4 linked regions of the Homo sapiens genome follow. The protein of the gene in region 2 interacts with the protein of the main gene of each other region in a pairwise test. Each region holds a gene or a part of one and is shown on either strand. Other genes may lie near its edges. The genes, in order: EFHC1, TTC23L, FAM161B and USP20.

The links.
Region 1: the proteins of TTC23L (region 2) and EFHC1 interact in binary tests that used the Homo sapiens proteins (3 or more experiments, as listed by UniProt).
Region 3: the proteins of TTC23L (region 2) and FAM161B interact in binary tests that used the Homo sapiens proteins (3 or more experiments, as listed by UniProt).
Region 4: the proteins of TTC23L (region 2) and USP20 interact in binary tests that used the Homo sapiens proteins (3 or more experiments, as listed by UniProt).

Annotation. Positions count from the first base shown.
Region 1 is NC_000006.12:52,435,053-52,442,815, forward strand, and holds part of EFHC1 (EF-hand domain-containing protein 1), read left to right. Parts: intron 1-3,251; coding exon 3,252-3,539; intron 3,540-7,763. UniProt on the Homo sapiens protein: Microtubule inner protein (MIP) part of the dynein-decorated doublet microtubules (DMTs) in cilia axoneme, which is required for motile cilia beating.
Region 2 is NC_000005.10:34,845,664-34,853,426, forward strand, and holds part of TTC23L (tetratricopeptide repeat protein 23-like), read left to right. Parts: coding exon 1-10; intron 11-4,521; coding exon 4,522-4,645; intron 4,646-7,763.
Region 3 is NC_000014.9:73,938,299-73,946,061, reverse strand, and holds part of FAM161B (protein FAM161B), read left to right. Parts: intron 1-1,176; coding exon 1,177-1,727; intron 1,728-3,346; coding exon 3,347-3,693; intron 3,694-5,008; coding exon 5,009-5,136; intron 5,137-7,763.
Region 4 is NC_000009.12:129,876,413-129,884,175, reverse strand, and holds the end of USP20 (ubiquitin carboxyl-terminal hydrolase 20), read right to left. Parts: intron 5,839-7,763; coding exon 5,736-5,838; intron 4,604-5,735; coding exon 4,532-4,603; intron 4,064-4,531; coding exon 3,903-4,063; 3' UTR 3,887-3,902; exon of another isoform or gene 3,710-3,886; 3' UTR 2,348-3,709; downstream 1-2,347.

The sequences.
Region 1 (7,763 bases), on a different chromosome or scaffold from region 2:
TTTGGTTATCTTCTCTGTGATTCTCTTCTCACTCCTTTGGTGAGTTGTCCAGGTTCATGGCTTGAAATGTCCTCTTTATGATGATAAGTTGTCCTCTAAACATATGTATACATAAATGCCTATTTGCCATCTCATCTTGAATGTCTAATAAATATCTCAAATTAAGCATATCTAAAACTGAACTCCCAATTTTGTCTTCTTACCCCCAAAATCTGTTCTGCAGCAATCTTCTTCATATCAATTTGATAGTAATTCTATGCTTTCAGTTGCTTGGCCAAAAATGTTTGCATTATCCTTGAATGTTCTGTAATATTTACTTCTTCCCCTAAACCCAGTCCTGCAGTATAAATTACCCCCTGCAGTATACAACTTGTGCTGTCACTTAAATTCAGTAAGTCTAAAATCAAACTCACCATCTGCCATACCCAAATTATCTTCTCCTTATGTTTACATTTCTATGAGATCACCACTATATCGCCAGCACTGGGTTTTCCTCAACACCTCATCTGCTTCCACCTTCCCACTTCCTTACTATCAATCCAGTCAGACTTCTGCTTTTCCATTGCTGGTAATTAATTACTGCAGACCTGGACTATTGAAGGGGCTTCCAGTCTGATTGCCATGCCTAGTACTTCCTCCTCCATCATAGCCTGCATACTGCTGCTGGGTTTCCTTCCTCTGCTTCTGTTATTACCACTGCTTAGAAGCCCCCCTTGTATCCTCTGCTGATCTAAAATCTTTCACTCTTCAAGTCTAATACATCTTTTGTTTCCTCCTAGTTAAGCTTTCTCTGACCACTTTAGTCCACACAGATTCCTTCTTGGAACCACGATAGCATTTGTTACCTGAGAAGTAGCAAGATGTGTGGAGAGAATATTGGGTTGTGAGTTAATAGTCTGAATTTCAGTTCCAGTTCTGGCCCTAACCCCTTACATGGCCTCAGGCACGCCACCTTACCACCCTGGGTCTCAGTTTCCTCCTTTATAAAATAAGTGGGGTTGGGCTAGCTGATCAGTTCAGCTTTAACATTTTATGTATTTATAAATATATGGCTCAGATACAGGCCATTTTATATATGAATTACTATGATCATGTCCCCCCTTTCAGTTCTTTGCAGTTGATCTAAAATGTTACTTCAACATTATCTGTCCTTTGCTTTTACCATGTTATTTTTCTCCTTCAAACATTCCACTGCACTTATCCATTTTATCTTTTTATTATGAGTTTTAAGGCCTTCATTATATTCACATTTCTCCTATGCACTTGTATGCACTTGCCAGTTCTCTTGGTTTTTATCTTGTTTTTCCACAGTAGTTACGCTACCCATTTTTTTTTTTAGCAACAGTGTCCGTGTATAGAATTATTTCATCTTTCCATTTATCAAGCCATATTTCTGTTTCATTTAGGATCTTCTTGATTTGTTCCTCTTATTCTAGTAGAGGCTTGGGTAAACTATCTTGCCTGCTTAGAATCCCATTCTAATACTTTCTCTCCTTGAAAAGACACATTAAAAACAGAGACAAAATAACAGAAATTTAAAAATCCCAAAGCATGTTAACATATTCTTTTTATAATATTGTTTTATGCTTTTTATTTTTTATTTTTTTGAGATGGAGTTTCACTCTGTCACCCACGCTGGAGTGCAGTGGCGCTAACTCAGCTCACTGCAGCCTCCACCTCCTGGGTTCAAATGATTCTCCTACCATAGCCTCCCAAGTAGGTGGAATTACAGTTGCCCACCACCAAGCCTGGCTAATTTTTGTATTTTTAGTACAGACGGGGTTTCACCATGTTGGCCAGACTGGTCTCAAACACCTTAACTCAGGTGATCTGCCTGCCTTGGCCTCCCGGTGTGCTGGGATTACAGGCGTAAGCCACCACGCCTGGCATAGTTTATGTTTTTTAAATGTGTAATCTATATATTGATACCATGTTGACTTCACATTGATGATGATGCTCCCCAGAGGACCAATGGTTTGCTCAATGTAATATATATGTTCCTGAGCACAAGGAGGGTATTTACACACGTTTTAGAGATTGTATAGCGGATTGATGATGAGGGTATGTACACACCCTTCAAAGATTCTGTAGTGGATTGATGATGTGAAAGTCATTCATATAAAGTTTATAATAATGAACGTAATTAATATACATTTACAAAGGACTACACTTCTAAAGAAGTGCAATTAACCCTTCATTTTCAGTTTGAAACCAAAAATCGCAATCTTATCCAAGATTTTTTACTCTTCCCAGAAGTTCTGGGAGGGACTTTTGACATGGAGGTGAAGCTAGTAGAGTTAAGTCCTTTAAGATGTATTCTCACCAAGGAACATATGCAATAAATAGTTTATACACATTGTGAGTATTTAAAGCAGATGTCAGCAAACTTTTTCTGTAAAGGGCAGTTAGCGTATATTTTGGCCATTGCAGTGGTTTTAGCCTGCGTAGTCTGCCACAACAAAATACCACAGATTGAGTGGTTTAAATAATAGAATTTATTTTCTCACAGTTCTGGAGGTTGGAGGTCCAAGATCAAGGTGCCAGCTGGTTTGAATTCTGGTGAGGGCTCTCTTCCTGGCTTGCATACAGCGGTCTTCTTGCTATGTCTTCATGTGGCCTTACCTTGGTGTGTACATGTGGGAGTTAGGGGAGGGAAGTAACTCTCTTTCTCTTCTTCTCTTCTAAGGCAACCAGTTCTATGGGATTAGACTTAAAGGTGGCATACCTCTATCCTTAAGATCTGGTTTAACCTTAATTACCTCCTAAGGATCCTGTCTCCAAATATAGTCACATTGAGGGTTAGGGGTTCAACATATGAATTTTGGGGATGAGGGGGACACAATTTAGTCTGTGTATCTCTGTCACAACTATTCAACTCTTCCCTTGTAATGGGAGAGCAGCTGTTAACAAAAAAGCGTAAATTATTTACATAATTATTTGTGGATTGAAAATTTAAATTTTTATAATTTCCATGTGTTATGAAACATTTTTTAAAATTTTTTAAACCATTTAAATATGTAAAACCCACTCTTAGCTTGCAGGTCATAAAAAAAACAGGTGGCAGGTTAGATTTGTCCCATGGACTATAGTTTGCAGTATCTGTAGTTTTAGAGTATCAAGATTTACAGGATAGAAGTGATGAGTGTTAAAATCTCCCTGTGTGGTTCTGTTTTCAGGAAGGTACTTGATATTTTTCAGATGACTATGACAAGCTAATAGTACACCATTTCTCCTTTCCTTGTATGTTATAGGTACTGAAATTTGATGCCTATTTCCAAGAAGATGTTCCTATGTCAACTGAGGAACAGTATAGGATCCGTCAGGTGAACATTTACTATTATCTAGAAGATGACAGCATGTCTGTCATAGAGCCTGTTGTAGAAAATTCTGGAATCCTTCAAGGCAAGTTAATAAAACGCCAGCGGCTAGCCAAGAATGACCGGGGTGACCATTACCATTGGAAAGACCTAAATCGAGGAATAAACATCACAATTTATGGCAAAACTTTCCGCGTTGTTGACTGTGACCAATTCACACAGGTATAGCATATATTTTTGAAAGTTGTGGGGTCTGAGGCATCATTCTAATTTATAGAAGGATACATTTCATTTATTAGGGTAAGGGGAGGACATTGGTAATCTGTCCTGCATGAATTATTATGAATGGCTAGGTATTTGCATGTGTGTATGTGCTAATATGTGCCAACACTAATAGTAACATAATTTTTTCAGAATGATATTAATACTTATTCACTCAAAATCAAACTCTCATCATAGCTGAATAATTTGGTAAGAAACCAGGTTAAAATGGCAGTTCAAACAGGGAGTAGGGGAATAGCATCCCTGCTGGGATGTAAGTATGGAAGAGGGATTAAACGTTTTATCTTAAGTGTGAGTTTACAAAAATAGCACTACTTCTATTAGCAGATATGAGCCTAAAATTTTTTGTGTAGCTCATATATTTTTGGTAAATGATACTTGCTATATTCTAGGAAAGCTTACCATCTAAAGAATTTCTGAAATGAAACCATTTTTAAATGAAAAAACCTCTTCTATATGTAAAAAGTCCTCTATTTCGTAAGTTTGGATTTTTTAATACAAAGGAAACTTTTATTAAAGTTACATGCATAGAGGATATAGGTGGCCTTTCTTTACTACAAAGTGTAGGAATTAGGAAGTCAATTCCAAATTTGTCTTAGTTAAAAAAATATTTCTAGCAGCAAAGATATAGTTTCTGAAGTATTTTATGTCCCTATTCCAGGATACCTAGTGCCATATGTGACTAATTTTTACCATGCACTGAGCTCCTATGAATCCATTATTGTTTTCATTTAGTAGTTTGTTTAACAGATATTTATTTGCATGCCTGCTTTGTTCCATGCACTGTTCTAGGTGCCAGATGTTTTCAGGAAGGTACTTGATATTTTTCAGATGACTATGACAAGCTAATAGTGCACCATTTCTCCTTTCCTTGCATGTTATAGGTACTTGCCCCTATAGAGGTTCCAATCTTGTTGGAGGAGATAAGCAATAGCAAATAAATAGATTGGTTATATGTCAGATGATGATAACAGCAATGGAGGAAAATAAAGCTGAGTAAAGGGAATGGAAGTTGAGGGGCTCTTTATAGAGGCGGATCAGAGAATGCCTCAGTGATAAGATGACATATGAATAGAGGCCTGAAGGAAGTAAAGAAAGGAGCCATGGCATCAGTGCCATTCCAAAGCAATAGAGAAAAATAGCTTCAAAAGTAGAGGTGCTAGACCATCTTTGAGATATTCTCCCGTTCCAACATATTTTTATCTCTTTGCTTTTTAGGTGTCTGAGGTCTTATATATCATAGGCAGTTTCACAATTGTACCAACAGTGAGAAATGATAAAATGTTATCTAAACATAAATGTATTAACAATTATTTTTACAGTTGTGTTTTCATAACAATTATTTTTACAGTTGTGTTTTTATGGGCAATTTGAACATTTGCAAGTTAATCACTGAGCGTTTGACCTAATCTATTTATAGTCGGTTCTCATTATTGACAGTAATTAGGACTATAAAGTCACCACAAACACTGAATTAGTGAATACTGAACCACTAGTCTTAGAGGAAATACAGGGTTAGGTTCCCACTAATCTCTGGCCACATTTTTGTCAACTGATCAATACATAAGTTTGATTCATGTATGTTTCTGTTTAAAGACACCTTATTTAATATATACGGTTGATTCATTAACATTAAACTCACACCCAACAGCACTATAACTCACGTCTGAACAAAGCTTATCTAAGACATGCATTTTCTCCATGAGGTGTGTTACAGCCTTCTTGTGCTTAGGAACACTAAATAGCACTTCATCACTAGGCACTGGGACCCTTTAAACAGCAAAATCACCAACAAAAAACACAAAAATGCAAAAAATCTGGCACCTTCATGTATATGTATATGTATGTGTATATGTATCACATTTTCTTTTTCCAGTTTACCATTGATGGGCATTCAGGTTGATTCCATGTCTTTGCTATTATGAATAGTGCTGCGATGAACATACTTGCGGGTATGTCTTTATGGCAGAATGATTTATATTCCTTTGGGTATATACCCAATAATGAGATTCCTAGGTCAAATGGTAGTTCTGTTTTCAGGTCTTTTAGGAATCACTACACTGCTTTCTACAATGGTTGAACTAATTTATACTCTCATCACCAGTGTATAAACATTTCTTTTTCTCCACAACCTTGACAGCACCTGTTATTTTTTTACTTTTTAATAATAGCCATTCTGACTGGTGTGAGATGATATTTCATTGTGGTTTTGATTTGCATTTCTCTAATGATAGTGATGTTGAGCTTTTTTTTCATATGGTTATTGGCCATGTGTATGTCTTCTTTTGAGAAGTGTCTGTTCATGTCCTTTGCCCACTTTTTAATGGGGTTCTTTGCTTTTTTTCTTGTAAATTAAAGTTTCTTATAGATGGTGCATATTGGACCTTTGTCAGATGCATAGTTTGCAAATATTTCTTTCCCATTCTTTAGATAGTCTTTTTACTCTGTTGATGCTTTCTTTTGCTCTGCGGAAGCTCTTACGTTTAATTAGATACCATTTGTCAATTTTTGCTTTTGTTGTGATTGCTTTTGGTGTCTTTGTCATGAAATCTTTGCCCATTCCTATGTTTAGAATAGTGTTGCCTTGGTTGTCTTCCAGGGTGTTTATAGTTTTGGGTTTTACATTTAAGTCTTTTATCTATCTTGAGTTGATTTTTATATCTGGTGTAAGATATATGGCTAGCATATGGCTAGCAGGTTATCCCAGCACCTTTCCCCATTGCTTATTTTTGTCAACTTTGTTGAAGATCACATAATTATAGGTGTGTAGCCTTATTTCTGAGCTCCCTATTCTATTCCATTGGTCTATGTGTCTGTTTTTGTACCAGTACTGTACTGTTTTGGTTACTGTAGCCCTGTAGTATAGTTTGAAGGCAGGTAACATGATGCCTCCAGCTTTGTTCTTTTGCTTAGAATTGCCTTGACTATTCAGGCTCTTTTTGGGTACCATTGAATTTTAAAGTATTTTTTTCTAGTTCTGTGAAGAGTGTCACTGGCAATTTGATAGGAATAGCATTGAATCTGTACATTGCTTTGGGCAGTATGGTGACTGTAAAGATATTGATTTTTCGTATCCATGAGCATGTAATGTTTTTTCATTTGCTTGTGTTATCTCTGATTTCCTTAAGCAGTGTTTTGTAATTCTCATTGTAGAGATCTTTCATCTCCCTGGTTAGCTGTATTCCTAGGTATCTTATTCTTTTTGTGACAGTTGTAAATGGGATTGTGTTCCTGATTTTACTCTCAGCTTGGCTGTTGTTGGTGTATAGGAGTGCTAGTGATTTTTGTATGTTGATTTTGTGTCCTAAAATTTTGCCGAAGTTGTTTATTAACTTAAGGAGTTTTTGGGATGAGGCTCTGGAGTTTTCTAGATATAGAATCATGTTTTCTCCAAACAGGGATAGTTTGACTTTCTCTCTTCCTACTTGGATGTCCTTCATTTCTTTCTCTTGACTGATTGTTCTGGCCAAGACTTCCAATATTGTCTTGGATAGAAGTTGTGGAAGAGGGCATCCTTTTCTTGTGTCAGTTTTCAAGAGGAATGCTTCCAGCTTTTCCCTGTTCAATATAATGTTGGCTGTGGGTTTTTCATAGATGGCTCTGATTATTTTGAGGTGTGTTCCTTTAATACCTAGTTTATTTATTTATTTATTTTATTATTATACTTTAAGTTATGGGGTACATGCGCACAACGTGCAGGTTTGTTGCATATGTATACATGTGCCATGTTGGTGTGCTGTACCCATTAATTTGTCATTCAATTAGGTATATCTCCTAGTGGTATCCCTCCCCACACCCCCCACCCTATGACAGGCCCCAGTATGTGATGTTCCCCACCCTGTGTCCAAGTGTTCTCATTGTTCAATTCCCACCTATGAGTGAGAATATGCAGTGTTTGGTTTTCTGTCCTTGCGATAGTTTGCTCAGAATGATGGTTTCCAGCTTCATCCATGTCCCTACAAAGGACATGAGCTCATCATTTTTTATGGCTGCATAGTATTCCATGGTGTATATGTGCCACATTTTCTTAATCCAGTCTATCATTGTTGGACATTTGGGTTGGTTCCAAGTCTTTGCTATTGTGAATAGTGCCGCAATAAACATATGTGTGCATGTGACTTTATAGCAGCATGATTTATAATCCTTTGGGTATATGCCCAGTAA
Region 2 (7,763 bases):
GGAAAAAATGGTAAAACAAAAAACTCACTAAAATTTTGTTTCCATTTAAAAATATGTTCCTGTTTAGAGAAGCTTTGCCTTCGATGCAGATTGAAGCATATGAAATAGAGGAAGGTGTCATATTTCTTTGTAAGTAGCAGAAAACAAAGCAGAGCCTACTTAGGTAGCCAGCCCACCTTCTGGTTCCATGCATGGTTCATTGTCTGTTCCTCCTTGGGGCATTTCTGGTCCTAGCTTTAAACTAAAAATTAGGCCAGGTGCAGTGGCTCATGCGTGTAATCCCAACACCTTGGAAAACCGAGGCGGGAGGATCTCTTGAGGCCAGCGTGAGTAACATAGTGAGACCCTGTCTCTACAAAAAAAATTAAAAATCAGCCAGGCATGGTGGAGGGAGCCTGTAGTCCCATCTACTTGGGAAGCTGAGACAGGATAGCAGCTTGTGCCCAGGAAATTGAGGCCACAGGGAGCCCGTGATTGTGCAACTGCACTCCAGCCTGGGTAACAGAATGAGACTGTGTCTCTAAGAAAATAAAGTAAAAATTTGAAAAACCTAAAAATTATCATTTGATTGTTTTTGTTGCTGTTACCTTTAACTTAAAATTAAAAAAAAAAATAGCTGGGCGTGGTGGCTCACACCTGTAATCCCAGCACTTTGGGAGGCCAAGGTGGGCAGATCACCTGATGTCAGGAGTTCAAGACCAGCCTGGCCAACATGGTGAAACCCCATCTCTACTAAAAATACAAAAATTAGCCAGGCGTGGTGGCGCATGCCTGTAATCCCAGCTACTTGGGAGGCTGAGGCAGGAGAATTGCTGGAACCCAGGAGGCAGAGGTTGCAGTGAGCTGAGATCATGCCATTGCACTCCAGCCCGGGCCGACAACAGCTAGACTCTGTCTCAAAAAAAAAAAAAAAATATATATATATATATATATATATACACACACATATATATACACACACATATACATATATACGTATATATACAAATACATATATGTGTGTATGTGTGTGTGTGTGTGTGTGTGTGTGTGTGTGTGTGTGTGTATCCATCCTGGAAGGTTTCAGGATGCTATCTCTTAGGTAACAAAAAGGCTGGGATAGTAAGGCAGGAGGTTGAGAACAGGTAGGCAGGCAGGTCTAAGCTCTGGCCTGGAAAGGATATGGGTAAGATGCCCTTGGTTACAGTGGAATCATAAACAAACCAAAGGGCCAGAAACAGAAGGTAGCAGTGGAGGTCAAAGATTCCAAATATGCATTTCTAAGAGCAAGTCAAAGACTTGAGTCAAAGATCTCAGAGCAGGTTTGTAAGCATGAGTATTCAAAATCCAGGAGACTGAGACAGCAAGACGTCGACTCTCATTATTAGAACACAGGCACCAGCCTGCTTCCAGAGCATGATTTATCAACAGAAGAGCTTGTACCTTGACTTCCTGGCTCCTCCTAGCCAAGGGGAAAAAAGTAATCTAGAGAGGTTTCATTTTCTATCATTTGCCTCTGAAGTATCTCTCTAGATGGATATTTGTAAATTTATCTCTGTAAATGACCCAAGGACCTTGCAAAGGACAGTCATCCTGGCCTGGACCCATTAGTGATTCACAAATCCAGGCTAGAAGGATCATTTCTAAAAACACACAAGTACCATCTGCCATGGAGTGTAAGTGGGGGTTTTCAAGGCTTAAAAACTCCTTGGCCAGATTGGATAATGACAAAGATTTAGATCTTAGGAGAGAAATCTGACTCAAATCCCAAGCTCATCAAATTGTATAAAGTGAACAGGTGCAGTTCTTTGTATATCAGTTATAGCTCAATAACGCTGTTTTTTTTTTTTTTTTTTAAATCAAACCCAACCTAGTACTCCTAGCCCTGAAGGGCAGGGGATGCCACATCAGCAGCAGAAGTGCTGGGATGACATCTGGAGCCCGTATTGGTTGTCCCGGTTTCTCCAAGTCAAGGAGTTCGAGGATGAATATACAATGTCCAGAGCCAAAGCTTTGGTCTCCCATTCCAGTGATTTTTTCATGGCATGATGCTTCTTCCTCGAAAGAGAACTTAGTATTTGCTGTGGTCAGCCCATGGTGAACTCTAAAAAATGCTGACTAAATGGATGTTTTGGAAGCATCAGGGGAAGTTTCCTTCTACCATTGCTTGCTTCTGTATATTTGAGCAGGGGGCAGGTAAAACATGAAGTTGGGTAGGAGATAGGAATCAGTAAGGAGTGTATTCCTTGGAATAACCTATGGTACTGCTGTATCTTATCTAACATTACTCTTTAAATGGGTTACTTTGGTTACCTGTACATTATTCTTCAAACGGGTTACACTTAGATCTGACCTAACAACACTGAATCATTTGGACACTATTTTTTTTTCCTTACAGTAACTCCATGAGGTAGATGGTACAGGTTTCCAAACCTCAGAAAAGGAAGCTGAGATCAAAGTGGCCTGCCCCAAAGCAACACAATCAGTAAACAAACATTAGAACCAGGGCTGAAACTTTAGGTTTTTGGTTCCTTGAAGTGCTATTTTCACTTAACCAGGAAAAAAATGCCTGACCCTATCGACTCGTTCAGCCAATAATGGCTGTGTTTGTAAAGTCACTGAAATATATGACTTGAAGATACAGTTCGGTGATTTCTTAGAGAGCTCTACCTGTCATTTCTATAGGGGTAGAGGATTATTTTCCCCAACCCATCTTTAACCTTGCTAATAAATGATTCATTCAGCAAATATTGAATGTGTTACACCTGTGTGTACTGGGCAGATAACAGCGAACATGAGGAATAAACTTCTGTCCTCAAGGGACTTATCTTCTATTTGGGGAGATAATAGACAAACAATAGTAATAGCTAATAAAATATTAGATAGAAGTAAGTACTATGAAGAAAAAGTAAAATAGGTAATGGGATATTGAGTGATGAAGTGGTGTCTATTTTAGATAAGGTGGCCAAAAAAGGCCTGTTGATAAGAAAAGTGAAAATGAAATGAGAAAGTGAATGACATGGAAGAGTGTCCCAAGCAGTGGGAGCAGCACGTGCACAGCCCTACATTGGAAGTTAGCTGGTGATGTTCAGGAACCGCTGGTCAGTGTAGTTCTAGCAGACAGAGTAGGAGGAAAGGGTGGTAGAAAATGAAGTCCAGAGGTGATTGGCATTGGGTCAGATTATGCAGAGCCTTGGAAGCCATGGTGAGGACTTTGAATTATATTAAGAAGAAAAAGCGGGAAGCTGTTGGAGGATTTTGAACAGGAAAGTCATGATCTAATTTATATCTTAAGATATAAACACATAAAATACGTTTTAAAATCCATAAGTTTCTAATAATAATAACAAGCTATTTGATCACAATTAGAGGATGCTAGTGAACAATTCATTTTTCTGAAAGCTAGTAAAGGGCAAGAATAAACCATGTGTCCTGCCTTTCCAACATGAACTGTACTATTGGGTAACCAAAGAGTGGAGGAGGAGAAATTCTCCTTACAGAATTATTCCAGCTAATGTATGAAGAAGGAATGATAGAATTAGTATATTTGCATTTTATAATCTTTTGTTAATTTTCCATGTAGTTTTCCTAATATCAGAGAAAAAAAAGAAAAAACAACCAGATAGTAGATGTATTCTGCTGGAAGAACATACCAGTAGCCATGAAGTCGTTTTGTAAAAAAAAGAATTCAAAGCTGAAATTAACCAAACTTCTAAACCCAACTACTAATATAAAGGCAGAACAGAGAATGGAGGGACATGATGAGACACCATGAGGACGCAGTCATCAAAATTTATGTCTGTGGGAAATACTAGACCAAATGACTCAGCTTTTTCAAATAATTCGTAAGAAAAAGAACTAGAGATGGAAAAGTAACCTATAGATGAAAAGAGACTGATCTCACAGTGTGGACAGTCAAACAAATTATTTAAAAAATTCCATTTCTGTGATTAGATAAGGAATTATTGTTAATATTTTGGTGAGATAATGATTTTGTGGTATGTTTCTAAGTCCATATCTTTTAGAGGTATTTACGAAATGTTAACAGAGGCAACAATGGAATGTCTGATTTGCTTCAATTTAAGGTGAGGATGGGTGGATGAGGGGTCTAGATATGAAACAAGATTGGCCAGGAGTAGATCACTGATCACGCTACATATTCATTTTTCATGCTGTCTGTTTTGTATATTAATAAAGTTTTTCATGATAAAAGGTTAAAAGAAGTCACTCTGGCTATTATGTAGAAAGTAGACTGTGAGGGCCAGAGAGGAAGCAATTGGAAGGGGCTGCTGTGGCCAGCCAGGTCAAAGGTGAGGGTGGCCTGGACTAGGTACTCATGGCAGAAATGAGGAGAAGAGCTTGGTTTTAGGATTTAGGGGGAATGTGGATCCAACCAGACCTGATGGATTAGACACAGGATGAGAAGGAAAGAGAAGAGAAAAAAGATGACAGGTGAATTCAGTCCTGTGTTCCAGTGATAAGTCCATGGGGTAGAGACTTCTCTTCCTTTCCAAAAAGTATAATCACTTCTGTACTCTACAGAATACTCAAGCAAACAAGGAGCTGATTCGATGTGTCATCCTTTCTCGGATTATTTTTGGGGACCATCACTGGAAATGTGCACGAGCTCTGGCCAACCTAGCTTATGGCTACTTGACACTGAGAGGTACTTGGTTTTCCCAGCTGGGTTTGGGTGGCCAGCCTCTGAAGGCTGAACTGACCCACACAACCTCAGTGAGGATGGGCATGACTAGGAGGGCCCCTTCTTGCCCCTAGCTCACACATTATCAGGAAGGAAAGTCCATGGATGAGGGAGACAGTGTGCAAGGATCTAAGTAATAAAGATAATAATGATGATGACAGTTATTGAGTATTTAGCATGTGCCAAACTGGTCTCATTAGTCCTCACAATATTCCTTGGAGGGAGATACTATTAGTAACCTCAGTTTATGGATGAGGACACTGGAGCACAGTGGGCAAAGGGCAGTATCAGGGGTTCCAGCCGGAGGACAGTAGGGGAAGGACAGGCAGGGATGTACACTCAGCATCAGGGAGGCAGACCCAATAATGGGACTTGAATTCCAAAGGTAGAACTCAAGTTCCTGGAAGGTTTGGCTTAGTGAAAGGTAGGACCCTCATCCTAGAGAAATGGTACTTCTGGAAGGTACTCTAGTATAAGAGAATAAGACAAGAATCTATTTGCTAAAACTGAACCCAAGTGAAAGTTCCTTGAGAGTAGAAAGTTTGTAGTACAGGCTGAATAAATATTGGGTGATACACTGAGGCGAGAGCGCATTTCAGGAACCAGGGACATAGCCAGCTCAAGACTCTCTGTTCCTTGACCAGCCATGTCCCCCTGTGTGGTCTGCATACATTTTCACCGTGGAACTCATTGTACTGTGCTCATATATGCTTTAAATGCTTCTTCCTCTGACATAGAAGCTCCCTCAGGGCGGGACTGGTCTCATTTGATCTAGAACAGTCCTTTGTACACAATATGGTTTGGCATATTACTGCTTATGAACTGAGCCACTGGCCTAGGGGTTGTTCAAGTACCTCTGGGACCTCAGTCTGAAGGGGGGCCTAACTTGTAATACAAATTAAATGCTTTATGGGCTTAAGTGATTTGAAGGCTACAGGAAAAGGGAAGCAATATATTTGGGCCATAATGAGGCTGGATATCAGCAAAGCTTTTGAAAAAATTAAAATTGAGTTCACTTCTCAGTTATTGATCTCAGAATATATTCTCCTTCTTAGGGCTCTATAGGCCCTTTTACACCCATTTATTTTTAATGCAACTTTAGATTCATTTATTGATGTGGCAAGATCACAGGTAGCTGAGATCACAGCATTAGGACAGTGATGCTGTGGGTCACAGTGGGGGCACAGCGAGGCCCTTTTATGCTTTAAGAACACGTGTTGTGTTCTGAAAGAAGGTGCTATGGCTAGGGAGAGGAGAATGTCCTTATGTACTGGCAGAGCAGGCAGCCACCTCTATGAAATTTCAGAGTGACCAGGAAGGATCTTCCCCTAGTGGCGTTCCGTGCTTCCTTACTTGGAATCTCTCTATTCCCATCAGACTGATTTTCTCAAAAACTTACTGCCTTCATGATAAGAGTCAAATTTAGGGATTTACTCCTTCAGTACTTATGGAGTTCTTGTTATAAGCCTGGTGGCACTTGCAGTCAGTGCTGGGGATACATAAATGAATATTGGTGGTCCCTATGCTCTAGGAGCACACAGGGGTCTTATGATAGGTACCATTCTAGAGGTAGGAACAAAATTCTGGGGAGGCAGTTCAGTGGTATTGCCATTGAGGAAAGTCAGGGAAGGCTGCCGAGAGAAAGTGATATTTGTCCTGTCTTTGAAGAATGAGAATAGGTTTATCAAGTAGATTTTTTTACTTTTTATATTTTTATTTTTGTAGAGATAAGGTCTTTCTACGTTGCCCAGGCCGATCTCAAATTCCTGGCCTCAAGTGATCCTCCCACCTCAGCCTCCCAAAGTGCTGGGATTACAGGCGTGAGCCATGGCACCTGGCCCCCAAGTAGATTTTGAGGGGAGAAGTAGAGAGTACAAAGTTGGTCCTTTATATATGTTGATCTAAGGCATAGGAAGTGAGAGGAGGGCACTCTGTATAAAACTCGTTACACAGAATATTGTAGCTTCTCTGTAGACCCAGGGGGTTAAGGTAGGACGGAAGACACCTTAGGACAGACAGCTCATGTTTGGAAATGGGACTGAAAAGGTAATTTGGGCCCAGATATCAGGGAGTGTGGAGAGTTATTAAAAGGTTTGAAGTGAGGTGGTAATAATCAAGCTTGTGTTATAAAATGAGAGACTCCAGGATGGGTTGGACTGGGTAGAGAAAGAAGAGGCAAAGACCAGTTAGGCCGTTATCCTGCCCAGATGAGAGTCGATGAGGGCATTGGGTATGGCAGTTGGAATGAAGAAAGATAACCTAAAATGTAGAATGGGTGACATTTAGTGCCCCATTCAGTATGGAGTGGGAAGGACAGGGAAGAATTGAAGTTGAAGTAGGCATGACCTGGACAATTAGCTTAAATCGAGAATGAAAGGGAAAGACCAAGTGGTGGGGTGTATTAGTCTGTTTTCATGCTGCTAATAAAGACATACCCAAGACTGGGTAATTTATAAAGAAAAAGAGGTTTATGGATTCACAGTTTCATGTGGCTTGTGAGGCCTCACAATCATGATGGAAGGCCAAGGAGGAGCAAAGGCACATCTAACGTGGCGGCTGGCAAGAGATCATGCAGAGGAACTGCCGTTTATAAAACCATCAGATCTCATGAGATGTATTCACTATCACCAGAACAGCATGGGAAAACCCTGCCCCTGTGATTGAATTACCTCCCACTGGGACCCTCCCATGACACGTGGGGATTATGGGAGCCACAATTCCTGGTGAGATTTGGGTGAGGACACAACTAAACCATATCATGGAGGAAGGGGGAAGAAGCTACTGAGTTTGGTTTCTGAAAGCAGGTCTAGAGCTCAGGAAAGATGTTAGTCTGGGAGAAATGAGCACATAGGAGCAAGTTGAGGCCATAGGAGTGGATGAGCTTGATCAGAAGTAGTGTGTAGTGGCTGGGTGTGGTGACTCATGCATGTAATCCCAGCACTTTGGGAGGCTGAGGTGAGTGGATCACTTGAGGTCAGGAGCTGGAGACCAGCTTGGTCAACATGGTGAAACCCCGTCTCTACTAAAAATACAAAAATTAGCCAAGTGTAGTGGTGTGTGCCTGTAATCCTAGCTACTCGGG
Region 3 (7,763 bases), on a different chromosome or scaffold from region 2:
TTAATTAAAGGGCAGCCTTTCCTCAGGTGCAGGGGCTCACACCTGTAATTCCAGCACTTTGGGAGGCTGAGGCAGGCGGATCACTTGAGGTCAGGAATTCGAGACCAGCCTGGCCAACATGGTGAAACCCCATCTCTACTAAAAATACAAAAATTAGCCAGTCATGGTGGCGTGTGCCCGTAATCCCAGCTACTCAGGAGGCTGACGCATGAGAATCCCTTGAGCCCAGGAGGTGGTGGTTGCAGTGAGCTGAGATCACGCCACTGCACTCCAGCCTGAGCAACAGAGCAAGACTCTGTCTCAACAAATAAAAATAAAATAAAATTTAAAAATGGGCCGGGCACCGTGTTTACGCCTCTAATTCCAGCACTTTGGGAAGCCGAGGTGGCTGGATCATGAGGTCAGGAGTTCAAGACCAGCCTGGCCAAGATGGTGAAACCCCGTCTCTACTAAAAATATAAAAAAATTAGCCGGGCATGGTGGCAGGTGCCTGTAATCCCAGCTACTCGGAAGGAGAGGCAGAGAATTGCTTGAATCTGGGAGGTGGAGGTTGCAGTGAGCCAAGATCACGCCCAGCTTGGGCAACAGTACAAGACTCCATCTCAAAAAATAAGTAAATAAATAATAAAAAATAAAAAAAAATACAGGGAAGCATTTCCTAAATACACTTTCCCTGAGAATGACAACAAAGTACCTTTATCTTGGTCAAGCCTTAGAAAGTAAATATTGAATGAGATAAAGTGTACATTATCTCATTACTTTATCTTATTTAATATTTACTTTCTCCTCCAATAACCTGGTAAGTAGACATTAATTTTTGCCACTCTACATAGGAGGAAATTGAGGTTTTAACAGAACTTTGCTCAAAGTTTGAAGCAAGATTTAAACCCAGGTCTGTCTGACTCTAAAGCTCTACTCTGCTCATTGTTCTCTCTCTCATATGAAATATTAGAGTGCAAAGTGGCAGTTCTTGGATCAATTCTGAGAAGAGACTTTCCATTAGGGCTGCCAGGATTGTCTGTGGGAAGGTCATGGACATAGAGGCCTGTGGGGCTGTGGTGTTAGGCTGAGCAGCCAGCTGTGACCAGTGGGAAGGGAGGACTGGGGAGGAGGTCTGGAGGGAGCAGGGCCTCCTGACTGCCCTGTCCTCCACTCACAGATCTGCTTTTTTCCCAGGTGTGGCTCCACAAGGCGCTGCAGCTCCCTGAACAACCTTCCCTCCAACATTCCCAGGCCTCAGACCCAGCCACCCTCAGGCTCCCGGCCTCCCTCCCAGCACAGAAGCGTCAGCTCCTGGGCATCATCCATTACTGTCCCTCGGCCATTCCGCATGACGCTGCGCGAGGCCCGGAAGAAGGCCGAGTGGCTGGGCTCACCTGCCTCCTTTGAGCAGGAGAGGCAGCGGGCCCAGAGGCAGGGTGAGGAAGAGGCCGAGTGCCACAGGCAGTTCCGGGCACAGCCTGTGCCTGCACATGTCTACCTGCCCCTCTACCAAGAGATCATGGAGCGCAGCGAGGCCCGAAGGCAGGCAGGGATCCAGAAGAGGAAGGAACTGCTCCTCTCTTCTTTGAAGCCCTTCAGCTTCCTGGAGAAGGAGGAGCAGCTAAAGGAAGCTGCTCGACAGAGAGACTTGGCAGCCACAGCTGAAGCCAAGATCTCCAAGCAGAAGGCCACCAGAAGGATTCCCAAGTCCATTCTGGAGCCAGCCCTTGGGGATAAACTCCAGGGTAAAGACATCCTTGCCACCTTGCTGCCTCCTGCCTCGGGGAACCAATCCCACCATAGGGATTTAGTCAGGGCCCAGGGATCTGCCTGGCTTGGAGATTTGCTGCTTGGGTGGACCCACTAGAGGCTGCACGCTTAGTGCAGGCCATTGGGGAGGGTTAGGTCTGTCTATACAATCAGGACCTGTATGGTGCCAGGAGTGAGAGGTCCCACAGTGTCCCCAAGGCTCGTCCTGTTGACATCTAAGTGAATGCACATGAGGGCCTCTGCACCAGCACAGGTGCAGGAATAGAGAACCAGTGAGACACCTGAGGACCAGCTTGGGCTCATGCCACCACCAGCACACTGCCCTGAGATGCTCCCCCATGGCTCCTTCGTCCTGGTGAGGTAGTGTCAATCGCCGAAATTACCTGGGGGATGATTATTTACACATTTCCAAAAGTATAGCTCCAAATAAGGGGCTCAGGCTTTATTCACTTTTCGGTAGCATGTGCCATGCTCCAGGCACTGTGCCATGGTGAACACACAGACATGGAGTTTGTAGATATGTGAGGAAAACAGATAAAGACAAATACATACAAATGTGGCGAGTTATTTACAAGGATTAAAAGGGGAAGCATGGGAGCATATATCAAAGGGACCTAACCCGGGGATTGGTGAAGCAAGGGAGCAGTTAGGGAAGGTCCCCTGAGAAAGTGGGCCCTGGGGCTGAACTGAAGGAGGGGCGAAGAGGGAGGAGAAGTGGAGCAGGCAGAATGTGGCATGGAGGGGAGAGAAAGCAGAGCATCTGCAAGGGATGGAAAGGTCGAGGGCTGAGAGAAGAGGGAGTGGGAAGGAAGAGGCAGGCATGGGCCAGACATGAGGAGCTTTGCAAGCCACGTTGGCGAGTCTGGACTTCATCCCAAGGGCACAGGGAAGCCACTGAGGGAGTGAGGCAGGGTGGCCCATGATCAGAAATATAGTTCAGAAGGATCCTTCTGATTGCTGTATAGATAATCTGAGAGGGCAGCAAGACTGGAGGGATGTTGAGCCAAGAGGAAGCTATTTCACAATTCAGTAGAGAAATTGTGCAACTGGTTGCAGGGATGAAAAAACGAGGATGGACTGGAGAGAGGTTAAAGAGGAGGAAATGACAGAACTTGTGACTGATGAGAGACACGGAGGAGTCAGTGATGTGGGCAAAGGGCCTGGGCAGCTGGGTGGATGGTAGGGCCTTTCTCTCAGATGGGGAAACCTGGGAGAGGAGCAGGTTACTGGCCCACTTCCTCTGCTTCATCTCTGAAGAAGCAATCATAGAAAGTGCTCAGTAAGTGTAGATGGTCACTGCTTCTGCAGCCTGATTGACACAGGCAGTGGTGTTCTGGATGACATTTATTAACAAGCTCTCCAGAAAAAAAAAAAAGGAAGCTGGTTTGTAATGTTTGTTATTTTCTGTGGCATAATTACTCCTATTCAGGCCATCTGCAGGCATCTCACAGGATGTTAACGTGTCAGAATTCCTGAAAAGTTCCTACTTGCCTCCAGTAACACTTACAGCTAGTGTGTAAAAGAGGGAAAGTTCTCCAACCCTGTAGGTTTCTTGCTTGGTCCTTTCTTACCCATCACCATCCTTTCTCCACAGAAGCTGAGCTCTTCAGGAAAATTCGCATCCAAATGAGAGCCCTGGACATGCTCCAGATGGCCTCTTCCCCTATCGCCTCCTCTAGTAACCGGGCTAACCCACAGCCCCGCACAGCCACCCGAACCCAGCAGGAAAAGCTTGGGTTTCTGCACACTAACTTCAGATTCCAGCCTCGGGTGAATCCTGTGGTCCCTGACTATGAGGGCCTTTACAAGGCCTTCCAGAGAAGAGCAGCCAAAAGAAGAGAAACCCAAGAGGCCACTCGCAACAAGCCCTTCTTGCTGAGGACCGCCAACCTGCGCCACCCTCAGCGGCCCTGTGATGCTGCCACCACCGGAAGGAGGCAGGTGAGAGCCCAGGCAGCTGTGGGAGGGTCAGGGCTGCGGCCTGAAATACAGGGTGGGGCCAGGTCTTCCTGGAAAGCACTTCTCAACAAGGTTTTCCTATCTTTTTTTTAAACACCAGCTCAGTTGTAAGCAGATTCACTTTCCTATAAACTCCAGACCACAGCCCAGCCTGGGCAACAGAGACCCCATCTCTAAAAGAAAAATACAAATATTTGCCACATGTGGTGGTGTGTACCTGTAGTTCCAGCCATTCAGGAGGCTGAGGTGGGAGGACCTTCTGGCTGCAGTGAGCCAAGATGATGCCACTGTACTCCAGCCTAGGCAACAGAGTGAGACCCCATCTAAAAACAACAACAAAAAACAGGCCAGGCGTGGTGGCTCACGCCTTTAATCCCAGCACTTTGAGAGGCCGAGGAGGGCAGATCATCTGAGGTCAGGAGTTCGAGACCAGCACGGCCAACATGGCAAAACCCCATCTCTACTAAAAATACAAAAATTAGCTGGGTGCGGTGGCGGGCACCTGTAATCCCAGCTACTTCAGAGGCTGAGGTAGGAGAATTGCTTGAACCTGGGAGGCGGAGATTGCAGTGAGCTGAGATTGTGCCACCGCAGGCCAGCCTGGACAACAAGAGTGAAAGTTCATCTCAAAAACAGAACACAACAGAAACCATAGGGACACTTCTTTTCCTCCCTTACTGTAGAAGGATTTCACAGAAATAAGTCCAAGCAGGCTTGAGAGGCAAGGAGTTGGGATCAGTTGTTGATGTCTCTATACCAATTCCAAGGAACTCTTCTCATTTGACTAAAAACTTTAGGATTGATATCCAAGTCTTGGCTTGGTTGTGAAACTTGAGATCTCTTTATCCTTGCCTTATTCCCAGGAAAAAAAATGAAGATTCTCATTTTCAGTCCTTCAGTGAAGCTGAATCCTAGTAAAGATAGAAAATGGCTGGGCGCGGTAGTTCACACCTGTAATCCCAGCACTTTGGGAGGCCGACACGGGTGGATCACCTGAGATCAGGAATTCGAGACCAGCCTGACCAACATGGTGAAACCCCGTCTGTACTAAAACTGCAAAAATGTAGCTGGGCATGGTGGCTCACAACCTGTATAGTCCCAGCTACGTGGGAGGCTGAGGCAGGAGAATTGCTTGAACCAGGCAGCTGGAGGTTGCAGTGAGCCGAGATTGCGCCACTGCACTCCAGCCTGGGCAAAAGAGCGAGACGAGACTCTGTCTCAAAAAAAAAAAAAAAAAAAAAAGATAGAAACTAATCACACATGCTGTCCCACCAATACCAACCTTTGTTTCTTCTAGGATTCCCCACAGCCACCAGCTACACCCCTGCCAAGGAGTCGTTCTCTGAGCGGCCTTGCTTCCCTCTCTGCCAACACTCTCCCTGTGCACATCACAGATGCCACCAGGAAGAGGGAATCTGCAGTCAGGTGAGTGGTCAGGCTGCACGAGACCCATGCTCTGATTCTGGCCCCAAATGCTGGAAACCTCCCTGCCAAGGGGCCTCCTTTCCTGTTATCAGAGATACCTCAAGGGGTCAAAGGGAATTTTCTGATCAGGACTGGAACAATTGCGGTTCTCCACACCTGGTGCTTGGAGAACAGCTAGCCATCATTCAGCACATATTCATAGTGGGCTTATTCTGTGCCAGGCACAGTGTTAAGGCTGGAGATCTTAGGGAACCTCCAGTTTATTATCTAGTCTGAAATACAGAAAAGCAAAGAAGCAATGGCCATATTTTTTGAGTAGTGCAATGATGGGGGGTAAAGGGGACTGTGAGGGCACTGGGCAGCCTGGAGCAGGGGGGTCTTGTCTTGTGGAATAGATGTCTAAAGTGAAACTGAAGAACAAGGAAGAGTTCGCCAGACAAAGCCTGGAGAGAAGGAAGGTTCCAGACAGAGAGAACATGGATAAAAGCCCATGGGTGAGAGGAAGGGAGTAGTGAGGAACAAGAATTCAGAGAAGCATGCTAGCAGGTGGCTGAAGTTGCCGCAAATATGAGACATCCATTGCATAGATTTGAGATTCTCTGAGATTCATCTTGGGAAGATGTCAGAGTCTGTTGGGCAGCAAGAGCCTGCTTATTTTTAACTCTTCAACTGACCTGATTCTGTTATGATGTTCTCATTAAGCCAGCCCCCAGCAAGGGTTCTTCCACCAGGCTTCTGAGCTGAAGTAGGCAAGAGAGGTCATGGTGTAACAGCAGCTTAGGCCAGGGAGAGGACTAATGTCTTACTGCCTTCCCATGGGGCATGTAGGGGAGTACTCAGAACCTACTTGGATCGTTAAGCCCCACAGCAGGGATTGTAGAAGAGTATTTACGGTCCAAGGGATACTCCTTTCTTCTTCAGACTTCAGTTAGACCTACTAAATCAGGGCTAATTAATTGCTCAGTATCCTGAGGGCCCAAGAACACAGGCCTCCTGAACAAAGAGGCTGGCCTTCCTATAGAGGACATCCACATCTGCTTTCCAGCCACAGGGAATCTGACATATTAACAGATTAAATTTTCATGTCCTTCTTCCCAGTATGTCCATTTGAATATAAACATCCAAATATAAGAGTCTTGGTTGATTTTCCTTTTGGAAGAACTCAACATATTACTTTGTAGATAACTGAACAAACTAAGTGCTACAAGTTGAACCCAAATAGTCTGCACTGAGGGAGGCTCATTTCCAGTTCTCTCTGAATGTGCAGATTTGTATTCCCAAAGGACCATGAACCCAGACACCTTCCAGCCCACTGTTTCCAGCAGAGTGGTCAAGGCCAGAGGCTTCGGAGTCAGAGGTCCTGGTCCAATAGGGGCTTTTCCACTGGCATGCTGGGTAGCTTTGAGCAAGGGGCTTACCTCCTTTGAGCCTCAATCACCTCCCCTATAAAAAGGGAATTTAGTATTTACCTCATAAGGCAGTTATGAGGACAATGTGAAATGTAATGGTACTTGGTTCATAATAAGGAGCTCAGTAAATGGTAGCTATTAGTATTATTTTGTATCCAGATAGGCGAAGACCTATTGAATGTTGGACTGTTTAAGTAAGGATATATATATTTTTTTTCGAGACAGAGTCTTGCTCTGTCGCCCATGCTGGAGTGCAATGGCGCAATCTCAGCTCACTGCAACCTCTGCCTCCCGGGTTTAGTGATTCTCCTGCCTCAGCCTCCCAAGTAGCTGGGATTACCGGCACGTGCCACTACACCCAGCTAATTTTTTTTGTAGTTTTGGTAGAGACAGGGTTTCACCATGTTGACCAGGCTGGTCTCGAACTCCTGACCTTGTGATCAGCCCGCCTCAGCCTCCCAAAGTGCTGAGATTACAGCCATGAGCCACCGTGCCCGACCTAAGTAAGGATATTTTAACTGACGTTTCTCCAGTTCAGTAAATGCACTTCTAGGGTAGGAACTCACTGTGTCCCTAGTGCTGGAAAGGCTTCATCTGCCAGTGCATTTAATCCTAGAATTTTATTATTTTTAAAAATGGCAGTTGAGGTAAATTACATGCCCCATTCATTAAAAACACCAACTTACTTTCCAGAAAAGGTTACTAAGATTGCTTTATTTTATTTATTTATTTATTATTATTTTTTGAGACGGAGTCTCTCACTGTCGCCCAGGCTGGAGTGCAGTGGCACGATCTCGGCTCACTGCAAGCTCCGCCTCCCAGGTTCATGCCATTCTCCTGCCTCAGCCTCCCGAGTAGCTGGGACTACAGGCGCCCACCACCGCACCCGGCTAATTTTTTGTATTTTTAGTAGAGATGGGGTTTCACAGTGTTAGCCAGGATAGTCTCGATCTCCTGACCTTGTGATCCGCCCGCCTCGGCCTCCCAAAGTGCTGGGATTACAGGCATGAGCCACCATGCCCGGCTATTTTATTTTATTTTATTATTATTATTATTTTTGAGACGGAATTTGATCTGTCGCCCAGGCTGGAGTGCAGCAGTGCGATCTTGGCTTATTGCAACCTCTGCCTCCCGGGTTCAAGCGATTCTCTTGCCTCAGCCTCCCGAGTAGTTGGGATTACAGGTGCACACCACCATGCCCAGCTAATTTTTGTATTT
Region 4 (7,763 bases), on a different chromosome or scaffold from region 2:
CTCAGCATGGCCCAGTTTCCCAAACCGTCATAGGCTTTCCTAGAATACAGCCTCTAACAGCACTAGGCCGGCCCGAACCCCTGGGAAGAGAATCGTTTACCTTTATACCAAGATTGGGAAACTGCCAAAGTCTGCACATGGCATGGGCCTGGGCTGACTCCGAGGGGTTTGTGCTGTGAGACCTAAAGCTCCTATGAGACTGCCCCAAAGCAAAAACATGTCAGCAAGCGGCCAGGCGTGGTGGCTCACGCCTGTAATCCCAGCACTTTGGGAGGCTGAGGCAGAAGGATCACTTGAGCCTAGGAGTTCGAGGCCAGCCTGGGCAACACAGTGAGACCCTGTCTACAAACAAAAAACCCATCAGCAGTGCATCTGGTGCTTCTGTGTGAACGTGTTCCCGACAGGATCAAGTGTGCCTTCCTCATCAAGGAGCAGAAAGTTGCTGGGAAGGTGTTAAGGGCAGGAGCACAGTCAGAAAGCTCAATTTTAAAATGATGTTTTGGCCGGGTGTGGTGGCTCATGCCTGTAATCCCAGCACTTTGGGAGGCTGAGGCAGGCAGATCACAAGGTCATGAGATCGAGACCATCCTAGCTAACACCGTGAAACCCCGTCTCTACTAAAAATAAATAAAATAAAAAATAAAATTAGCCAGGCGTCGTGGCACATGCCTGTAGACCCAGCTACTCCAGAGGCTGAGGCAGGAGAATTGCTTGAACCCCAGGAGGCAGAGGTTGCAGTGAGTTGAGATTATACCACTGCACTCCAGCCTGGGCAACAGAGTGAGACTCTGTCTCAAAAAATAATAATAAAATGAAGCTTTTTTCAGGAAAAAAAAAAAAAAAAAAGGCGGGATGAGGGAACCACATGCAAAGAGCCACCTCTGGGGTCAGGCAAGGTGGCCGACTCCGGAGGGGCCCCAGGCTTTCCATGGAACTGGCAATGTGTCATCTTGGTTCCTTGTCACCGTGTTATCCTTGCATACGCTGAAATGTTTCTGTACGCTCGTATCTGATAGCGGCAGGGAAGCAGAAGCCTAGGGGAGCCAGGGTGACATCATTTTGAGTTCGGCTCCACCTAAAACTAGCAAGGGAGGCTGGGCCCGGTGGCTCACACCTGTAATCCCAGCACTTTGAGAGGCCGAGGTAGGCAGATCGCTTGAGGTCAGGAGTTCGAGACCAGCCTGGCTAACATGGTGAAACCTTGTCTCTCCTAAAAATACAAAACTTATCCAGATGTGGTGACACATGCTTGTAATCCCAGCTACTTGGGAGGCTGAGGCAGGAGAATCGCTTGAACCTGGGAGGCAGAGGTTGCTGTGAGCCGAGATCGTGCCACTGCACCCCAGCCTGAGCAACATAGCGAGACTCCATCTCAAAAAACAAAAAATTAGGCACAGTCCAGGCCAGTCACAACCTAAGATGTTTACGTCTGAGGAAGCAGCTACGTAACGCCTGCGAGGACAAACTCCTACGATGGAGAAGGTTCAGATGCCACACAACAGTGTATGCTTGAAGATGACCACAGTGAGGCTTCGATGTGCTTATGCACTAAGATGCCAAGGATGGCTTTCTTTAAATCAACAGAGCAATCCACTGTGTCAGGCTGTCAGCCCACCTGACAGACACAGCGTAGCTTTTCTATAGCTAAGACCCCTACATAAGAGGAGTTGAAAACAGCGACGGGCATCCCTCCACTTGCTTTCTGAGGACGCTCTACTCTGTACCTGAGCAGCTTTCAGTAAACTCTTCTCAGTGAACTCTGCGACTCACCTTGAGTTTCTTCCTGCATGAGATCCAAGAACCTTCTCTAGGGGTCTGGATCGGAACCCCTTTTTCCTGCAACAATGGGATTTCACAAATAAATGTTGATAAGTTATATATAAAAATCTCAAGTTCTTCTCTCCCCCAAAATGAGACCCAACAAAAAACTCAGACTACTGAACACCAGTATTGCTGAACGCCCAGGGCCAGTGTGCAAAGGGGAGGTAACCCCCTGCTCACGGCCACTCTGGAGCCGCCTGTCTGGGTGGCTGGAGGGAGACTAGCCTGTGGGATGTGCTGGCCTCAATCACTGGCCACATCTGGCCCTACTTCTCTGAGGCTGGGGCTGATTCCAGGAAAGGAGATGCCAATAGGCCTTTATAGCAGCTGGGTCCCCTCTTCTGCTCACCTCCACAGCCTCCAGGTGGTCTCTGGTTTCAGAAAGCCACATGGAAAGCCCCCTCCTGGGCCTGGTGATGTGCAATGTGAGCCCCAGGGCTTGGCGGGCTGTCCGCGTGGCGGAGAGCCTCACCTTCCCTCCAGTAACAGAACTGCAGTGAAGGAGAGACGACTGTGTGGCCGTGGGAACATTTATTCTGTGTTTATTCTGACATTTTGAACACAAACTAGACAGCACAGACATGGGGCCCGATCCCAGCCTGCACAGAAGCCTCTCTGCGTCGCGACAGTGCAGCGTGCGGCCTCTGGCTGCAGCGCCGGCTTTCAGAAGGCTGGGGCCAATGCCAGGGGAACCCCAGGCTCAGCAGGGAGGGAGCAGGATCTGGGACAGAAGATCCGAAAAGTGAGGCCTCAGGGCCTCTGCGGGACCCACCTGCTGGAATTTCCACCACCACCTGCTTCTACAAAGACTGATAGAAACAAAGACGCAGTAGTGTGGGGGGTCTGGTCCCAGAGCCCCTTCCCCACCCACGCCCCGTCTGCTTTGATCCTGATGATGGTCGCACCTCGCCCTGGCGGTTTCTCCAGGGGCTTTGGTGCCTTGCTGTGCTCAGTGGCTCCCTCCACTCAGCATCCAGAGGCTGCTTCCCAGGATCCACCTGAGCGCTGCACCCTGCACAGCCCCCACATCCCTCCAGGTGGGCTCTGCACTGCTGCTGCTGGGAGGAAGGGAAAGTCTGTCTTCTTTAGCATCAGCTCGGGAAGCTGCCTTTGCCTCAAATGGCCAAGCTGTGAGGTATCCCTGTTTCATCATCCGGTTCCCTGGTGGGGGCTCAGCAAATTTCCCATGAAGATGAACTGCTGAACTTCGAGGCAAATTACAGCCAATCCAGGGGGCAGGCTCAGCAGGACGCGGTGTGGGGGACCAGCTGCCTCCAGAAACATCCCCCACTGGCAGAAATCCAACCTCCTCCTGGTGTTCCAATCAGCAATGAGTCCAGAGTCTTCAGTCTGCAGGAGAAGTGCTGAGAGCAGCCCGGGACTTCAGAGCCTTCCTGGTGACGCCCAGGAGATGCAGAGGTGCGGCGGGACCACCAGGGAGGACCTGTGAGCTCCTCACTGGCCAGGGCTTCTGGCTGCGCTCACCGGCCCTGAGCAGCTCCCTCCGAGTCTTCGGGGCTCCGGGCCAATCGCACAGTGGAGACGCCGTGAAGCAGCAGCTACTCCCTGACTCTGGCCCAGGCCGCAGCCTCTGTCTGACAGGGGTAGCATCGGGCTCCAGGGACAAAGCTGGGCCGAGCTAGCAAGAGGACAGTTGTGGGGGACACAACGATGACAGTGACTGGCAGAGGCACTGCCAGGACAAAGACCCAAATTAACGTCACAGAGTCTTGGTCGTTTCAACAAGCCTGAAGTGCATATATTTTCTAGTTGCAGCGTTACTGCAAACCAAACCAACTTTTCTGCCTCTTTACACGGCGGGGTTCTGCAGCAGCCCGGCCTCTCTTCTGGGCACAAACACGCCTTCCGCGGGGTGGGGCACATGGGGCTGTGGGGACACGGGCACTCAGCAGTGGGGCCGGGCCATGTCCAGGGCCCTCCCACATCCTCCAGGAAGGTGCTTTCAGGGACCTGCTCTTTGGATGTTCAAAAGGACATGTGAGGGTCTCTGGAGAGTGAGGAGAGGACCCAGAGTGCCATGGAGGGACCAGCCGGGGCGACTTACAGACTAGCCCAGCAGATCACACGGCCCGCGTCTCGGCTTCGATCTTCTGCTCCCCGTGCAGGTTCTCTGGGCCCAGCGGCTGCGCCACACTCTGGCGGATGGCAATCTCGGGGCCACCTCCATACAGGCTGTTCAGGTAGGTCCAGGTCTCCTCCGAAATCTGCCCGTAGTCAGCTCCTGCAGGGCACGAGAGGCACCCCTAGGCTCACCTTTGCCTCCTCAAGGAAGCCACCGGCCTGGGCAGTGGGGGCTCCGCAGGGCCAGGCCCCGAAGCGGGAAGACGGCAACCAGGGCTTCTATGCAAAGCTGTCAGATGGAAATCAGGATTTCCCAGAGGAATGTCCATCCCGCTAAGGGCCCCGGATAACACATCTCTGGCTGTGTCCCTTGTTCCTGGGGGTGGGGCTGACATAAACAGCAGGGTGGGCAAGGCCAGCAGCAGGCAGAGGGGTGGGACCTGGAGGACACAAGCAGAGACCAAGCCCCTTGGGCCATCTCTCAGCCGCCTGGGTCTGGACTCAGGTGGACGTCTCAGCCTGACTCTAAGACAGGTGGTAAGGGGGCTCCTGGAAGGACGGGACTGGGCAGCAGCCTGGCAGCCAGGAAGGGCAGAGAGGAGCCTGGCTGACCCCAGGGGGAACTCACCCTGCTTCAGCTGGACATGGCCGCTTCCTTTGACCTGTGCAATCCTGCTGTTGTCAATGGGCCCGGGGGGCTCTGCAACAGACACAGCGGGCTCGGGTTCAGCCCCTGCCATGCCCTCCACCCTCCACAGCAGCAGAGCCATCCCAAGTGGGGCCGCCCCAGGCCTGGGGGTCAGCGTGAAGTCTCTAATGGATGAGGCGCCTGAGCCACCCAATGCTCCTCTGTGGCAGTCTGAGGACCCAGCAGAGGGAATTTCCAGGACACACGAGATGGTCTCAGACTCTGTGCTGGCCGCAGGAGCTGCGGTGGATGGCCCATGCCCTTATCTCTGCTGGCAGCTGCCGCTCACCACGCCCCTTCCCCTCTGCCCAGCTATCTCATTTAGCCTCGGCAACCACAGGACAAGACAGAGGTTTACAGAGACAGAGCCGAGGCCTGGGAAGGTGAAGTAACCACTCAGGTCATAGCTGGTAGAAGGCAAGGCCAGCGTCCAGGCCAGGGCGAGGGCTCCGGAGCTACATTCTCAACCACAGCCATGCTGAAGGCCTCAGCCACCACCAGAGAGGCCTCACGGTGGCCCTGGCACCTTCCCCGACTAGCGGGATGGCAATGAGGCCTCCCTTCCCAAGCACAGGTGGGTGCTCATGCTCCACACCAAGGGTCCCGTGAGCAGAACCGTGGGCTCTACCCACCCTGCCGGGCCCCGGAGCCACAGGTTAGATTATGCCCCGAGGGCGCCCCAGCCGAAATTTTTAATGCAGGTTTAATAGTTTAGAGCCTGTGGGCTTCCATGGCTTGGTTCTGCTGTTCTTCACTGGGGACTTGGGGGACCCTGGGAGCTTGTGATGGGGCCTGTCTCCACCTCTGTAAATCCAAGGAGTCAGATGACAAATCTGTCATTTCGGGCGACACACTCCCCTGAGGAAAGGGCCTTGCAGGAGGGCAGAGCAGCTTGCTGGGCATGGCAGGGAGTGGAGAAGGGCAGGGGGCGCAGAGCAGGAGCAGCTTCCTGCCTCTGGGTGGGGACAGTGATCCCCACTGGGGACTGGCAAAGCCCCATGCTCTCTGTTCACCCTGGATGGGTGGCACCTGGGGGCAGGCATGGGGCCTGCAGGAGCCCCTGTGTGCCAGCCCTCCCCTGCCAGCATCCCATCTCCCAGGAGGCCCCCAGGGCAGGTAAGTGCCAGGTCCCCCCTCAGCTCACCGTTGTCCTTCCCCTTGACGAACGCCTCCCACTCCCGGAACCACTGCATGCTGATGCAGTAGATGACGCCCGGCGACTCCTCGGCCTGGAAGGCCTTGTTCAACTGGCAGGCGGGCAGGGACGGGAGGAGACAGAGGGCAGGTCAGTCTCTATTTACCTTCAGCAAGGATTTCCCAAATGCCCCCGCCCCAGTCCCTCACCCAAGAGTCTTACAAAAACACCAGATACTCAAGGTGAAAAATCAAACCCCCAGACAAGCTCAAACAAAATGAACACACCCATCACTCAGAGAGGACGGTGGTAACATTTTGTGGGTCTCTTCAATAACTGTTTGACCCAACTGAGACCACAAGGGAGATTCTACTTTTTGAGAAGGAATCTCACTCTGTCACCCAGGCTGGAGTGCAGTGGCGCGATCTCGGCTTACTGCAACCTCTGCCTCCCAGGTTCAAGCGATTCTCCCACCTCAGCCTCTTGAGTAGCTGGGATTACAGGTGTGTGCCACCACCTGGCTACTTTTTGTGTTTTTAGTAGAGACGGGGTTTCGCCATGTTGGCCAGGCTGGTCTTGAACTCCTGACCTCAGGTGATCCGCCCACCTCGACCTCTCAAAAGTGCTGGGATAACAGGCATGAACCACTGCGCCCGGCCTGGGAGATGCTAATTTTCTCCGGTTGAATAGAATGTGCCTATCTGCTCAGAGAGGCAGCTCTCCTTCTGACAGGAGCATTTTCTTTTTCGAGATGGGGGGTGGTCTCACTCTGTGCCCAGGCGGGAGTGCAGCGGCGCAATCATGGCTCACTGCAGCCTTGACCTCCTGGGCTCAAGTGATCCTCCCACCTCAGCCTCCTGAGTAGGTTGGACCACAGGTGCATACCACTAGGCCCAGCCCTGACAGTCTCTTTTTCGTTTGTGTTCTGAGACAGGGTCTCACTCTATTGCCCAGGCTGCGGTGCAGTGGCATGATCACGGCTCACTGCAGCCTCAACCTCCCAGGCTTAGGTGATCCTCCCAACTCACTCAGCCCTCCAGGTAGCGGGGACTACAGGTACACATCACCATGCCTGGCTAATTTTTGTATTGTTTGTAGAGATGGGGTTTCGCCATGTTGGCCAAGTTGGTCTTGAACTCCTGGGCTCAAGTGATCCACCTGCCTCGGCCTCCCAAAGTGCTGGGATCACAGGCGTGAGCCACCATGCCCAGGCAGCAGAATCATTTCCTAATGGCCACAAAGCACGGGCGTCCCTCAGTGTCTCTCACCAGGCCCTCCCTGTGAGTGGAACACGTCCTAACCCTGTTAGAAGTAGCGTGGCAGGGAGGGAGTGCGCCAGGAGCCTCGCCTGCACTCAGCTCCCTCACAGAAGTCCCTCTTCTAAACACAGTCACACTTGAGTCCTGGTTTGCACCTTGGTTTTCACTTCCTGCTTTATCTTGGGCAGTCTGTAGAGCCCAGTGGTTCTCACCCAGGGCAGGGAGGGTACTCTGCACCCCAGGGGACCCTGGGCAATCTCTGGAGGTCATTTTGGTTGTCACTAGCACTAGTGGGTAGAGGCCAAGAATGCTGCTAAACATCCTACAATGCACAGGACGGCCCCACAATAAAGAATAATTCAGCCCAAAATAACACAGCCAAGGCTGAGAATGGGATCCATCTACTGGTTCTTTAAGCTCAACAGCACCCGGGCGATGAGGCTTCACTTACTCAAGCCAACCCTCCCACCAGGAAAAGCCCTCCTAGACACCTGGCCATCTAGTTCCCCGCAGAAGACTCCTTTCTTTTCTTTTTCTTTTTTTTTTTTTTTTGAGATGGAGTCTTACTCGGTTGCCCAGGCTGGAGCGCAGTGGCACAATCTCAGCTCACTGAAACCTCCGCCTCCCAGGTTCAAGCGATTATCCTGCCTCAGCCTCCCAAGTAGCTGGGATTACAGGCACCTGCCACCAAGCCCAGCTAATTTTTGTATTTTTAGTAGAGACGGGGTTTTGCCATGTTGGCCAGGCTGGTTTCAAACTCCTGACCTCAAGTGATCTG